Linked DNA regions of Homo sapiens: region 2 is linked to region 1. A link means that fine-mapping ties the variant in region 1 to the expression of a gene that starts in the linked region. Tissue or cell type: whole blood. Region 1 holds a variant in brackets; the other region holds the start of a gene. All regions are shown on one strand. Distances are between the middles of the regions.

What was found. PIP is the estimated chance that this variant, and not a neighbour inherited with it, causes the effect.
Region 2: it holds the start of TMEM164, and the variant in region 1 is fine-mapped to the expression of TMEM164 in whole blood (TOPMed, PIP above 0.99).

The regions. Positions count from the first base shown.
Region 1 is chrX:109,955,042-109,963,148 of GRCh38, reverse strand. No RefSeq gene overlaps it. Among named protein-coding and RNA genes, the nearest start is that of TMEM164, 44 kb to the left of the region's middle. The variant G/A (reference allele first, on the strand shown) is at 3,348.
Region 2 is chrX:109,998,219-110,006,325 of GRCh38, reverse strand. It overlaps TMEM164 (transmembrane protein 164), which reads right to left and starts at 3,212. Exons shown (of 7, transcript NM_032227.4): 1 at 3,148-3,212; 2 at 2,162-2,825. The coding sequence starts at 2,551. RefSeq lists an enhancer at 2,350-3,005 and a silencer at 3,108-3,967.

The DNA.
Region 1 (8,107 bases):
GTGGCTGATAATGGCATAAAGGATGCATCTCCTCTGACTGCTGCACACAGCCCTTGCAGCTCAAAATCCCAGGCTCCCTTGGTACCTGTCTAGAACTCTTCAGCTAGGATATTTGCTCCTTCTGAGATCAGAAATAAGCATAACAAACAAACCATCGTCCTGTTTGCACAATACCCCGTAAAATGATTAACCTAGTTAAAAAAACAAAACAAAAAACTTCCCCTTTATTTGGCTGAGATACTGAAAACAAGGTTGAAGTTGCTATAAAAGGATTTGGAAAGCTTTGAGATTGATGAGAGTTACTTTAACACCATTCTACCTTCCCTCCACAATGAATAAAAGGTGACAGTTTGAGACCAGCCTGGGCAACGAGACCCCATCACTACAAAAAAAAAATATATATATATATTGGCAGGGCGTGGTCGTGCATGTCTGTAGTCCTACCTACCTACCTACGCAGGAGGCTGAGGCAGGAGCGTTGCTTGAGCCTAGGAGTGGTTACCGTGAGCTATGATCACACCAATGCACTCCAGCCTGGGCAGCAGCGCAAGATTCTGTCTCTAAAATAAATAAATACATAAATAAATAAAATGTGACAGAGACAGAAAGCATCTCAGGGAGGCCATAGCTGAAAAAGATAAATCTCTAATGTTGGGGAAGAGATTCTGGGGGTGAGGGGCTTTCAATCACCACTTATTTTTTCTGGAAGACTTTGGTTTGCTCTAGGAAGCTTTTTCTTTTCTTTTTCTTTTTTCTTTTTTTTTTCTTTTTTTTCTTTAGACAGAGTCTCGCTCTGTCACCCAAGCTGGAGTGCAGTGGCCCCATCTTGGCTCACTGCAACCTCCGCCTCCCCGGTTTAAGCAATTCTCTGTCTCAGCCTCCTGAGTAGCTGTGATTACAGGTGCCTGCCACCACACCTGGCTAATTTTTATATTTTTACTAGAGATGGGGTTTCGCCATCTTGGCCAGGCTGGTCTTGAACTCCTGACCTCGTGATCCACCCTCCTTGGCCTCCCAAAGTGCTGGGATTACAGGCGTGAGCCACTGCGCCCGGCACTAGGAAGCTTTTTCTACATCATGAAATGGATCTACAGAATAAGAAATGGGCCCCACTGAGATTTACCAACTCCAAGTCACCTTCTTTAGGAGTTTGGTCTTCAGTAGTAAGTCAATAGCTACACTTTCCCTTCTCCAACAAACCCATTAAAGAAGCTGCACAGAGACACAAAAGTTTTGCTCTTCTCAGAATTTACATTAAATTAGATGCATAGGGAACCACTGGCCTTTCTTCATTCTGTATAAGGAAGTCAAGAGCTCAAAACAGTTTATGGAACAGTTTACCTGTTTAATTCTGATGTCTTATGAAAGTCTGCTATTCCATGTCCACAGAGATCTGGCATTTAGCACAGACTACATTGCATTACCTTTCCAATGCATCCCCTATTTGCCCCAGATAGAGATTACAGTATACTGCACAGAGCACTCCACATTTATTTCTTGATGATAATGACAGGCAGCAGAACACTGCCCTAGGAGCAAGGAGACCTGGGTTCCAGTTTCAGCTCTACTACCAACATGCTGTGTAACCTTGAGCAAATCGCTTCCCTGATATAGAATCAATTTTCTCACCTGTAAAATGAGGAAGAAGATATCTAAGGGCTTCTCCAGCTCTGCCATTCTGTGAGTCTTAATATAAAGGCTTCATTCAATGTAAATTAGACCTATCACATCAGCAACCCCTAAGCCAGTGGTTCCTAAGTTCCAGTGGGCACCAGAATCAATTAGAGAAGTAACTTGCTATTTGGAAATGTATCCTATATCTGCAAAATGATGTGTATACAAGGTAATTCAGTATGTCAATTGATTGTATTAGTGGAATAGTGGAAACAACCCATGTGCCCATCAAAAAGTAACTGGTTAAATAAGGTCTGGTACATCCATATAATGGAATGCTATACAGCTGTGAAAACTAGTAAGGAAGTTCTCTATGACAGATACGGAAAGATCTTTAAATTACATTATTTTTTAAAGGTGCAGAATAGTATGTAAAGTATGCTAATTCTTATGGGGAAGAAGTGATATATATATTTATATAATCTATATATTATATATAGATTATAGACTATTATACTAATTATATAGATCATATAGATTATATAATCTATACTCTATATTATGTATATAATAGATTGTATATAATATAAAATATATTTTATAGATCATATGTGTTACAGACTCTATATTATATATAGATGTACTATATATAATCTTCATTTGCTTATATTTGATAAAGAAACTCTGAAAGGATTCATAAGAAATAAATAACAGTTGTTACCTGGATTTTTATGGCAGGTGGGGGTAGGGTAAGGTGGGAACCAGGCAGCTGAGGACAGGAATAGGAGAGAGACTTCCATGCTATACATTTATATTTTTAAAGTGTTGTGCCATGTGAACACATCATCTGTTCAAAAATTAAATTATAAAATAGAATAACAGAATCTACGTGGGAGCTAGTTAAAAATGCAGATGGCTGAGTTTAATGGGTCAGAACTTGGGAATCCAGAAGAATAATAGGTGAAATATACTTTGAGAAACACTGGCCTATACACTTTGCAAAACAGAAAGGATGGCAAAGATGCCTGTAATGTAAGACAGGGCCTTCTCTTTAGCAATTGCTCTACCAAGCATCCCCATGTCACTGTAATTATAAAGCTTCCAAATCCATACGTTACCCTTCTACCTTCCCACATCTCCCAGTGATGTGACCAAGCCTTCTTTGGGAAATCTTGACAGTTCTCGACTGTGGAAAACATGAAGTCTCGAGCACTTCTGTTTGTATGGTATATTAGGCTGTTGTTGCATTGCTATGAAGAAATATCGGAGACTGGCTAATTTATAATGAAAAAATGTTTCATTGGCCCATGGTTTCACAGGCTGTACAGGAAGAATGATGCTGGCATCTGCTCAGCAGTGAAACCACTCTTTGATCTCAACTTTTGGAGGGGGCACCAAATCCAGTGCCTCTCACCAGGCCCCACCTCCAACACTGGGGATTACTATTTGACAAGAGATTTGGTGGGGACGCAGATGCAAACCATATCTTATGGCTATGTAAGCAGCTTTTGTCTTTCACAGGATCAGGCTAGAAGGACCTGCTCACTTGGAGGAATAGAGATTGTTGGGAATGAGAAAAGACCCCCTCCAAAAGTTGAGATCAAAGAGTGGTTTCACTTGCCCTGAACTCCTGCTGCCAACTGGCCTGTGAAGTGGTAGCCTTTGCAGAACCAACCAGAGGAACAGCAGCACTAGCACTGCCCCTGCCCCCTACTTGGGAGACCTGCTTGTGG[G/A]TTTTGAGTCAGGATGTGGGCAATATGCAGGTTTTGTCTGAAACTGGCTTACACTTGTCCTTTGAGCCAATTGGATGTCCTTTAAAAATATTAGGCAATATACACTGCTTATGTGCACTAAGTACTTACAATGTTATCTTATTTTGTCAACCCAACAGGGTAAGTACTACACTGCTATCTCCCTTTTACAGATGTGGCAACTGAAGCATAAGTAGGGTGAGTGGCTAGCCACAGATCCCATAGTTAATAAGCAGGACTCCTTGGTGGCCCAGGATGGCAGTTGGAATTTAAATTCTGGCAGCCTGTTGCTAGGTCATCCCTACTCAAAGGCAAGGCCAAGTCACCCAATAAAAAGTTTCTGCAACTCTATCCCAAGAGCTCAGGGAATCTCCATTGGCTCTACCTCTGACTCACTGTCCTGACTCCTCTTGCTCTCTTCTGCTGTGCCACGTTTTCTTACTAGCTTTGCAGAGCCCAGATTCTCTCCCTTTAGTGTGCCCATTGGAATTGACCCTTCAGTTGGATTGTCTATTGAATTTCATTAGCAACTTCTCCCCTGATCGCTGGCTGTCAGATCACCTTTGAGTTCAAGCTCTGGAGCACCACAGGCAGATCTAACCCCAAGCTCAACCCAGATTCCTAGCCCAGGCCCCCAGTATGGATGTAGTATCCTGGGATCCTACTTATCTTACCAAGAAGAGAATAGACTCTCTTGGTCTCTCTCAGACCTTTAGGTCTCAGCTATCTTGATTCTGTTGACCCTTCACACTCATGTACAAGGTCTCCCAAGCCTTACAAACAAGTTGACTACTTCCAGCATACTACAAAGGAGCCCAGTCAGCAGCAAGGACTCATTATAGCTCAAGATGCTACTTTGGATGGCATTTGCTGATCCTCCTGATTGGCAGCTGGAATACAGCGCAGGCAGTGCAGGGACAGGAAGAAGAATTGTCTAATACAACAACTATAGTTATGGGCTTTTTATTTTTTTTGGAGGGGGATGAACTGGCACCAAACAGACACTATTCCAAGTGCCTTGTTCCACCGTGGGATGCATTGGAAGACAATTAGTTGTGGCAGGGGAGAAGTATAGCGTTTGGCCATGTAAGAGAGTAAAACAAACTTATCTAGCCTCAGAGTGAATTGAAAGCTTTAATGAGAGTGTTAACCAGTCACAGGTAGGGAGATAATAAAAACTTCAGCTCATTTTTGGAGAAAACTTCCTTGGTTCCATTAGCTATGGTGAGATCCTAATGATGCTTTGCTAATTTGTATTTGTTTTAGCATCTCCTTGGCATCAACTAAGTTCTAAAGGCTATGTGGAGTTAGGCCACTTTATCTCCTTTTGCTTCTTTGACCACATCCTTCCCCTTATGAAGCCACTCAGCAGTTCTTTCATTAGCACACCAAAAAACAAAAAACAAAACAAAACAAAACAAAACAAACAAAAAACCAAACCAAAACAAAACAAAACAAAACAAACAAAAAACCAAACCAAACCAAAACAAAACAAAACAAAAACTCAAACTAGGTCTGAGCCATAGTCCATTGATGCTGAGTACATAGCATGGGCTCTGGAGCCCAAATGCCTGGGTTTTGAATCCCAGCTCAGTTACTTACAAACTGTGTGATCTTGGTGAGGATACTGAACCTCTGTTTCCCAGTTTCTTCCTCTCTAACATGGGAATAATAACACCACCTATCTTATTGAGTTGTTGAGTTGTTATGAGGAAAAAATGAATTCATATTTGCAAGGCACTTGGAATAGTGTCTGACAATAGTAAGTGCTAGGTAAATGTTTATTAAATAAATAAGTATGTTCATTCATTAAACAAATCTGTATTGTATATCTATTCGTTAGCCAGGGGTTGGCAAACTTTTTCTGTAGAGAACTACATAGTAAATATGTTTTTAGGCCTTTTGGGCCATATGATCTCTCTTTCAACTACTCAGTTCCACTATTGTAGTGAGAAAGCAGTCATAGACTATATGTAAATGAATTGGTGTGGCTGTATGCCAATACAAATTTATTACAAATATAAGTTAGGCTAGATTTGGCCCACAGGCCATAGGTTGATGACCTCTGTGCTAGGGGATGGGAATACAATAATATGCGAAACAGATCCACTAAAGTGTTCTGTCTAGTATGGGAGCTAGTAAACAAATAATTATATACCTTATTATTGTGAGAAGTATGAGGGCGGGGAGATGGGTCGGGGAGGGTGTAACCTACACTGGAGGATCAGCAAAAGCTCCTCTGGGAAAGTGGCTTCAAACCAAGATAAAAGATGGACATAAACAAGTGAATGGGGGCATGAGGAGGGGCATGTGTGAGGTACACGACATTGACATCACCCTCAAAGAGCAAGGATGTCCCAAATATCCTAAATATCTCATTTTACCTTTCATTTAGTTTAGGGAAAAATCATTGAGATTTTAATCTAATCTGTCTTAGTCTTTCAGCTGCTATAACAAAATACCATAGACCGGGTAGCTTATAAACAACAGAAATTTCTCATAGTTCTGAGGGTTGGAAGTCAAAGAACAAGGCACTGGCCCATTTGGTGTCTGGTGAGGGCCTGCTTTCTGGTTCATTGACAGAAACTTTTCAATGGACCCTCATGTGGTAGAAGAGGCTAGCTAGCTCTCTGGGTCTCTCTGTCTCTCTCTCTCTCTCTCTCACTCTTTTTTTTTTTTTTTTTTTTTTTTGAGACAGAGTCTGGCTCTGTGCCCAAGCTGGGGTATAGTGGCATGTTCTCAGCTCACTGCAACCTCTGCCTCCCGGGCTGAAGCCATCCATCCACCTCAGCCTCCTGAGTAGCTGGGACTACAGGTGCGTGCCACCACCCCCAGCTAATTTTTGAATTTTGTAGAGACGGGGTTTTGTCATGTTGCCCAGGCTGGTCTTGAACTCCTGGGATCAACTGATCCGCCTGCCTTGGCCTCCTAAAGTGCTGAGATTACAGGTATGAGCCACTGCACCCAGTCTGGTGTTCCTTTTGTAAGGACACTGATCCCAATAACCTAATCACCCCAAAGGCCCCACCTCCAAGTACCATCACCTTGGAGGGTAGGATTTAAACATATGAATTTGGGGTTGGAGGGACACAAACATTCAGCCCATAGCACAATCTCTTCCTGAAGCTATTTTTAATCTCAACCTGTAAAATTTCTTGTGAGAATAACAGAATTGTTAAGTGCATAGACTGTTGCCAGATTTCCTGGGTTTGACTCCCAGCTCCACATACAAGTTGTGTAACCTTGGCCAAGTTACTTAACCTCTTTTGCCAAAGCCTTCTCTGTCTGTCAGGTGGGGATGACGGTATTGGTAGTATTCCCCTCAAAGGGTGAATGAGCTATTACATGTAACCTATTTGGAATATTGTCTGCCTCACAGTATTCAACATGTGTTAGCCCTTGCTGTTATTGTGGTTTATATGCCTGGTACTTTGTGTAGGGTACATTAAGTTTTCCTTTTATATCTGCTAGCATTGCCTCCTTCACATTCTGTTAAGGACTGAATCATCTCTTGCGCCTCCTCAAAATTCACAGGTCGAAATTCTACCCCCCAACATGATGGTATTAAGAGACAGGGCCTTTGGGAGGTAATTAGGTCATGAGGGTGAAGTTTTCATGATGGAATTAGTGCCCTTATTAAAAAGACCCCAGAGGCTGGGTGTGGTGGCTCACACCTATAACCCCCTCACTTTGGAAGGCCGAGGAGGGTGGATTGTGAGATCCAGAGTTCGAGACCAGCCTGACCAATATGGTGAAACCCCGTCTCTGACAAAAATACAAAAATTAGCTGGGCGTGGTCGCACACGCCTGTAATCCCAGCTACTCAGGAGGCTGAGGCAGAATTGCTTGAACCCGGGAGGCAGAGGTTGCAATGAGCTGAGATTGCACCATTGCACTCCAGCCTGGGAGACAGAGCGAGACTCCGTCTCAAAACAAGTAAACAAACAAACAAAATAAAACAAAATAAAAAAAATCAGAGAGCTCTGTCACCCTCTTTCCTCCATGTGAGGATGCAAGGAGTTAGAAGTCTGCAACCCAGAAGGGAGCCGTCACCAGAATCCAACCATGATGGCACCCTGATCTCAGGTTTCCAGCATCCAAAACTGTGGGAAATAAATGTTTTGTTGTTTATAAGCTACCCAGTCTAAAACACTTTGTTGTAATAGCCCAAACTGACTAAGACATGCTCTAAGAAGTACCATTTCTCTAGTTCTCTAATTTTAGGACTTAGTTTATAAGTCCTAAAGTTTATTGTACACTTACATTGCAGATTTCGGCTAAAGAATTTACTCTCAATTCCCATTTAATCCTCAGAATCCAAGTCTTAGTATGCCCATTTAAGTTGAGGAAACTGAAGCTCAGAGCAGTAAAGTGACATTCCCAAAATCAAAAAGCTAGAAAGTAGAAGATCCAGGATTCAAACCCTGATTTATTGGACTAAAGAATCCCAAGTCCTTAGCCAATATGCTATGCAGTCTCCCACACATATTGAATCATACATTTGATGGTATCCTCTTCAACTTTTCCCACAGAAAAGAGGCAATCTGTTTAGGATTCCCTAATACAGCAGCCCTTGTCTCCAAGATAGCTCTGGGCCTTCTCTAGCTCATTGCAAAAGTGCAACCTGCATACAGTGTTCTAGGACAGGCAGCACCTAGGGTAAGAATATGTGTTTTGTTAGGGCTGGCACTATGAGTAAGCAGTGTAATCATGATAACGATCTTAGTATTTATTGAGCTCTT
Region 2 (8,107 bases), 43 kb before region 1:
CCAAGCATGGCCCAGTTGAGTTTACTTTACTGGGAAGACACAGGGAGAAAACAATGAATGGGAACTGGCCACCTGACTTCCACAGAGAAGAAACTAGCTTCCTTTTTTTCCACACAGGAGGTCAAAAGCATTTCAGAATAGCTCTCTGTTGCATACCCATCTACGACTTATGGAGACAAGAATCACATAGACTGTCAAGAGCTAGGAGGGCAACTCTGCCTCATTTCACAAGGTAGGCAAACTGAGGCCCAGGAAGAGTACTTTCTCCAAAGTCATACAATGAATTAATGCTAGCACTAGGTCTCCAGAGTCTTCTGAGAGCCTCTAAAAATCTTGCTTCTAAAAACCATGGTGTTGCCAGTCTTGACGTCATCACATCAGCCGCAGCTCCAGTCAGGCTGAATTTAGTCCTTTGTCGACCTTCTAGATATGTGATTGCCAGAGGCCTCAAGACCACTTTGTAGAAGATGCACCCTTTGACCCTCACCACCTGCCATCCTAAAAAAGCACTCCTGTCCCGACAGCCTCACACAGCATCGGCTGAGATGCGTTGTTTCCTATCATTAACAAAAAGCCCATTCATAAAAAAAGAAAGAAAGAAGACTGGCTCAAATTTACACAGAAGGTCTAGCTGGGACAGCCCTGGACTTCCTGTGAATGGCATCACTTCCCAAGAAGCCCTCTCTTAAAAAATGCTGCCCACTCCAGCCCCGATGCTTACAGCCACCCAATCAAAAACAGCCACTTTATTCCAAAGTTATCCATACCTTCTTACCATATCTGCAAGAAGGGAAGGGGCTGGGGTCATTCACCACATCCAGAAGCCTGCAATCAAATGAGTTCCTAGGAACACAGTGCAAGCAAGTATCCAAGCCATGGGTAGACAGTGTGGTGCTCATCTGCCTGAGTCTTCCCACAGGACTGCCCCACCACCCACTGCCACCCTCACTTTGGGGTTGACAGCTTGCAACCTCAAGGTGGATGAGTTTGCTTTCTAACCCAGGCACTAATTCATCTTCTGGCTGCAAGCAAATGACCTGCCATTCCTAAACCCCTCCAGGCCTGTAAAATGGAGATAATAATCTCAACCTCCTGCCCCAAGCTAGGCTGTCACAAGTCTCCAAAGAATAACCTTCTACAAACATAAAGGCAGTAAAGATGCTAATGACAGGTTTCAAAACTGCCCCTGAATAAAACACACCCGGTTTTCCACAGCCTGAAATCTAAAAAAGACTGATTGCTCTCCCAGTCTCCTCTTCCTCCTCCTCCATGATTTTATAGCTTTAGAACATCTCTCCACACAGGCTGAATACAGACAGTCTCACTCTTGGTCCTCACCCAGATTATTTTTATGTATCTGGCAACTTGCCTTTTCAATCCCATTTGTTTTCCTTAGCACCGCTAATGGGTGGAAGTCGATGAGGTAAAGAAATCAGCTTCCTAAGCACCCTTGGACTATGACCATAGGAGACAGAATGACAGTAATAGGATGGAGAGGTTTGCAAAAAAAGAAATACCCTCTCACCATAGTGATCACCAGCCCAAAGTACACATGTCAGCCTGGGGACCTGCTTCAGAACTCATTTAGTAGGAGCTTGGTGCTGCTCCAATGCCTCAAAATGCAAAGGCAGACCTCACTCTAAGAGCATACACTCCCAAATGAAAGAGTCATTAAGAGAAACCTGTAAAAGTATTTCCCCAAAGTACCACAGTGTAGATGAGAAAGTTTATGCGACCACCTCCAGGAAAGAGTGTCACCAGGCCCCTGGGAAATTAACTACCACAGAAGGCAAGGGAGCTGGGTCATGGTCCACTGATGTGATTCAGAAAGGGCACCTGGCTGGGGCTGGAATTCCTGCTTGTGAAAGCCCAGGGCACGGCAGGGTTGGGCTGGGCTGGAAGGGAGGGGCAGCCAGGGTGAGTGCCAGTCGTTCCTAGGGTTCAGGCACAAGGTTCCTCACCTCCACTGTGGGGCTGACGCACTGTGCAAAGGTGAAAGAAAGCCAAACCTGAAATCGGCACAAAGGCAGCCACTCGTTGGAAAATCATTTTTAAAGGTCCCCCTGCCCGCCGGGATGAGGTGCTGTACACTATGGAGTGTCCTGAGCACATAAATGACTCTTATCACTTAGGATGCCCAGGAAAAAGTCAACAGACTCACATGCATCATGGTGACCAGGTGACAGGGGTTGAGCAGGTAGATGACGGTCTTGGTGGCGAACTTAAAGCCCACCTCCACCCCGAAGGTCAGGCACAGGGCTACTAAGAGCAGATTCTTGCTCAGGCTCTCCTTGCCTTCCTCTGGCCGCTGGGTCACCTGCTCTGGCTGGCTGCCAGGGCTACCCCTACCGTCCTCCTTCGTCTGCCTCAGGATGTGCCGCAGGGCCACCAGGATCTCCAACAGAGCCAGGGTCAGGACCACCACACTTTCCAGCAGCCGCTGCTGCCAAGAGAGGAAGGCAGCACAGTCGGGGCCCCCATTGCCTGCAAAACTGGGGTCCACGCCCCCATAGAGCCAGTCCAGGAGACTCTGGTAGCTATACCGGGACATGATGCAGTGGTTCCCCTTGACCACAGTACAGGAAGCAAGAGTGAGATGGAACACAAGCCCAGAGGGTTGCCCGGGTGGTGGACCATGTAAGGCGGGCACACCCCCACAACCCCCCTCCAGACACCAGGGCACCGAGAGTAGGGGAGGGGAAGCTACACGCAAGGCCCGGGGTAAAGTGCTGGCTCTAACTTGTCCCCACGGCTGTCTGGGGGAGCCCCCCGCGCTTCTCCAGTGGCCACCAACGAGGCAGGGTTGAAAGGAGCCGTTGGCCAATCTAAAAGGAAGGAGAGGAAAAAAAAAAAAAAGAGGTCTCAAAGAGGCAATTGCACCGGGAATTAGGAAGCGGGAGGGGTAACTAGCGAGGGAAGAAAACGGGAACGGGGCAGTGGCGAAGCAAGCAGGGGTCAGGGGAAGCCGGAGGCCGAAAGGGTCAGGGCGGGGGCCAAGGAGACCCGGCAGTGCTGCGGCAGCGAACCGGGAGCCAAAAGGGGTCAGAGCTAGGGGACACGCGGAGGCAAGGAGAGGAGCTAGCGGGGCCGAGCAGGCGGGGAGGGCGACGGGGATGGCAGGGACGCCGGACTCCTCGTCTCACGCACTCGCCACAGAGGGATCTCTTACTCCTGCAACCGCGTGGCCGTCTCTGCCCCCAGCTAGCAACTTCGCCGCCGACGGGCCCCTCCAGCCAATTTAGAGCCGTCCTTGTCCAGCCTCCCGCCCCCGGGTACACCCCCGAACCCCCAGCTCCACCCTCCGGCCCTAGACGCCCGCCCTCCGGGCAGCACCACCCCCAGCCCGCGGCCCGCCCGGGACCTGCCCCCCTCGCGCAGGCAGCGGAGGGAGGAAGCCAGAGGGAAGGCGGGAGGCCGGGCCAGCCGGGGGCTGGACTAAAGCCGGCCCCTGGACTAAAGCCGGCCCCCCTCCCTCCTCCCCGGCGCCGCAACCTCCCGCGCCTCCCGCCCAGCCCCGGGGACCGGCCGCCGCGCCCCTCGGGGCTTCACTCACCGGCAGCTCGGCCCGCGGCCCCGGATCGGGCTACTGCTCCGCTCCCGCGCTCTCCGCGCCGGGCGCTCGGTTCCCCTGGCGGCCGCCGCCGCGGCGCACGGCTCCTCCTCCCCGTCTTCCTCCCCCTGCAGCAGCCGCGCTCGCTTCCTCCTTCTTCCCCTCCCTCTCTCCTCCCCCTCCCCGCTGCCACCGCCACTGCCTCCCTCCTCCCGTCCAGTTCAGCTCTCGCCCCACCACACGCCCTCGGGCCACGACTACTCCTCCTCGCCTCCTTCCCTTTTCTGCCTCTGGCACTCCCCTCACCCGTCCACCATTCACACCTCCCACCCTCCGCGGCTTCGGCTCTCCCTCCTCCTCCTCCCTCCTCCTCCCTCCTCCGGCTCAGGCTCCGCCTCCTTCCGCCTCCTCCCTGGCCTGCCTCGTCTTCTGCACTCGGAGCCTGCACGCGTGCACAGCCACCCTCCTTCACAACCGTGTACAGAATTCGCCCCCTCGGTGAAGCCCTGTTGACTGGCTCCGCCTCCCGCGACCTGGTTCTCCAGGGCACTTCTTTCTATACTGCACACATAGTAGGCACTTAGCTGGCCCGCACTAACTTCTTGTGGGGGAATAAGCCTTTCTAGTAATGAGCAGCTTGGCTTCGGGGTGTGTGCTGGGTATGGCCGGCTCCTCTTCGCGATTCCTCCTTTCTGCCACGACTCATGCAAGGCCAGAAAGGCATCTTCTCTCCCCTTTCTAGCCACAGCCCCACTCCACACTTCAGTGCCTAGGACAGGAGCTTCATTTCCCTGCTCCTCCCCCTCCTGCTCTGATCCACTATTTTCTCTCTACCTCTTGCCACACAGACCACCCCTGCCACACCCTCTCCCTCTCCCACTTCTCTCCTTTCTCCTGACAGGCCTTCAATGGTAGGCCAGTGGGAGGAAGGGAGGCTTCCCGTGACCTCTTTCCCTCCCCCTCTTCCCCCCTTCCCCCTCCCCAGAGCAGTTGCTTCCTAACCTATGCGTGGAAAAGCCAGCCAGGACTATATGAGTGTGGAGGAGCAGCACTAAGCCCAAAACCTGGATAAGGGCAACTGACGGAAATAAAATCCCCTCTTCCTACCTGCTGCTTTTTACCGATCGGCTATTTGCTTTTCTTGAGACAAGGGTCAGTAAAAGGACCTTCTCAGGACCTTCCTCATGTTTATTTAATATTTATTGAAGACTCACGATGAGTTAGAAGAATATCCAGAAAAACACAGTTAGGCACCTTGCCTAGGAAACACTTTTGGATGTTGGCTGCAAGCCAGGCTCAAAACATAAAATGCAATCTACTGTATTATCAGGCCATCGCCCTCCCGTTTTTTCCAAGTCTGGTTTTCCGAACAAGTACAGCCAGGTAGCCTTGTCTGACTCCAAGTTTTGTACAACATCTACCATAGGCCTGATGTTCTCCAAGTGTCAGAGGCGTTAGAACCAGAGCGACTCCATCTTGAACAGGGCCTGGATAAAATGACGCTGAGACCTACTGAGCTGCATTCCCAAAAAGTTAGGCATTCCAAGTCACGGGATGAGATAGGAGGTCGGCACAAGATTATAGGTCACAAAGACCTTGCTGATAAAACAGGATGCAGTAAAGAAGCCGGCCAAACCCCACTAAAACCAAAAAGGTGATGACAGTTACCTCTGGTCGTCCCCACTGCTCATTATATGCAAATTATAACGCATTAGCATGCTAAAAGTCACTCCCACCAGCGTCCAGAAGTTACCCTATATGGTCTGAAAGGGGGAGGAACCCTCAGTTCTGAGAATTGCCCACCCCTTTCCCAGAAAACTCATGAATAATCCACCCCTTGTTTAGCATATAATCAAGAAATAACCATAAGAATTATCAGTTGAGCAGCCCAAGCTGCTACTCTGCCTATGGAGTAGCCATTCTTTATTCCTTTACTTTCTTAATAGACTTGCTTTGACTTTACTCCAAATTCTTTCTTGCCCCGAATTCTTGCTAGAGGTCCAAGAACCCTCTCTTGGGGTCTGCATCCAGACCACTTTCCAGTAATACAAGTGCCAATTAATAAACAACAACAAACAAGGCTTGATTCAGAGGCTCACTAGTTCATTCTCCTTAAGTGTTTTGTTAAATCCTCAGCAACATAACCAAGGAACATTAAGGACAAAGCTGGGGAGCACCTAGCAATGGAATACAGCATCCCAAAACCTCAAGTTGCTATCTTCAAGGAAGCAAGAATTAGGATATAGCACTTAGCCAATGGCTTCAGTAATCCCTCCAATTTCCATGCTGAGCTTCTGTTGAGAATTTGGCCTAGACTGTCCCGAGTTTGCAACAATGACTATGGTTAATAATGACTGTAGCCAGGCCAGTTTTCTAAATTGAGCCATAAATTCCTTTTTCACAGGCATGTTGAAGAAAAAAGCCAAACTCTGTAAAATATTTGAGATTTATTCTGCACCAAATGTGAGGACCATGACATGTGACACAGCCTCAGAAGGTCCTGAGATCCTGTGCCCGAGGTGGTCGGATTACAGCTTGGTTTTATACATTTTAGAGAGACAGGAGTTACAGGCAAAGATATAAATCAATACATGTAAGGTATACATTGGTCTCAGCCTGGAAAGGCGGGACATCTCAGGTGGTTGGGGGAAGCTCACAGTCATAGGTGGATTCAAAGACTTCTGACTAGCAACTGGTCGAAAAAGTTAAGCTTTATTTAAAGTAAAGAGTTGAAGTCAGCAGAAAGAAATGCTTAAGATAACGGGTATTGTGGAAGCCAAGATTCTTGCTATGTAGATGAAGCCTACAGGTAGCAACCTTCAGAGAGAATAGATGTAAAATCTCTTATTGGACCTTAAAACGTGTCCGACTCTTAGTTAAATCTCTCCTGGATCATGAAAGGACCTGGAAAGGGAAGGAGATTCTCTATAGAATGTAGATTTTCTCCACAAGAGATAGCTTTGCAAGGCCATTTCAACATATGTCAAAGAAATGTATTTTGGGGTAAAATACTTTGATTTCCTTCAGGGCCTGCTTTCTGTCATGTGGTGCTATACCAGGGTCAGGTTAGAATTTGGTATTTTATTGTCACGAAGAGTCTGTTTTGTCAGTCTTATGATCTCTATTTTAATGTGAATGCTGATCAATTGTGCATAAACTCCAAAGAGAGGGGGTATAATGAAGAATGTCCTTGAGGTTTTTTGAACATGGGAAATTTTGTGATGGTTTCTGTCAAGGTTTCTAATGATTTTTTATTGTGGTAAAATATAAAATTTGTTGTTTTAACTATTTTTTTCTTTTCTTTTTTTTGAAATGGAGTCTCGCTCTATTGCTCAGGCTGAAGTGCAGTGGTGCCATCTTGGCTCACTGCAACCTCTGCCTCCTGGGTACAAGCAATTCTCCTGTCTCAGCCTCCCAAGTAGCTGGGATTACAGGCATGCACCATGTCCAGCTAGTTTTTGAATTTTCAGTAGAAACAGTGTTTCACCATGTTGGCCAGGCTGATCTCCAACTCCTGGCCTGAAGTGATCCACCCACCTCGTCCTCCCAAAGTGCTGGGATTACAAGCGTGAACCACTGCGCCTAGTTGTTTTAACGATTTTTAATTGTACAATTTAATGACTTTAATCACATTCACAATGTGCAACCATCACTACTCTATTTCTGAAAGTTTTCATCACCCCAAATAGAATTCCTATACCCATTAAGCAAAAAAAAAAAAAAAAAAAAAAGTCCAACCTCCATGAGACAGAGTCTCACTCTATCCCCTAGACAGGAGTGCAGTGGTGCAATCTCGGCTTACTGCAACCTCCGCCTCCGAGGTTCAAGTGATTCTCCTGCCTCAGCCTCCCGAGTAGGTGGGACTACTGGCATGTGCCACCATGCCTTGCTAATTTTTGTATTTTTAGTAGAGACTGGGTTCCACCATTTTGGCCAGGCTGGTCTTGAACTCCTGACCTCAGGTAATCTGCCCTCCTCAGCCTCCCAAACTGCTGGGATTATAGGCATGAGCCACCGCATCTGGCCAGCCTGAGCTAGTTTTTCAAGTTTTCTTTCCAGGTCCTCTTAGCCAAGGTAGGGGGTGTGTGTTGGGGGGTGTGTCTGTTCAGTCATTTAGGGGGCTTAAAATTTTATTCTGGGTTTACAAGTAGAATAACAAAGTGTTTTTAGGATATGGATTCGAATCTAACCCCATTTATATTATTTACTTGCTGTGTCACCTTGGACAATTTACTCTCAACCTCCCTGTGCCTCAATTGCCTCATCTATTAATTGAAAGATACTATTATCAAATTGATGAGGTTATGCACAGTCAAATGAGCTGAATGTTGGGGACCATAAGGTGGTGTCTGGTGCATAGAGAGTGTTCACTAAGTGCTCCCTATTATTACCCATCCCTGCATTTGCATGTGTACACACACCCAAGCACGTGCACGCACACACAACCTCAAATTCAGCGCCCTCCCCCACATTTGCATAAACAATCCTACCATCCTTCAAAGCCCACGTAAAATTTCACTCCCCCCAATCCCCCTCCCTCAGCTCCTGGAGCTCTCT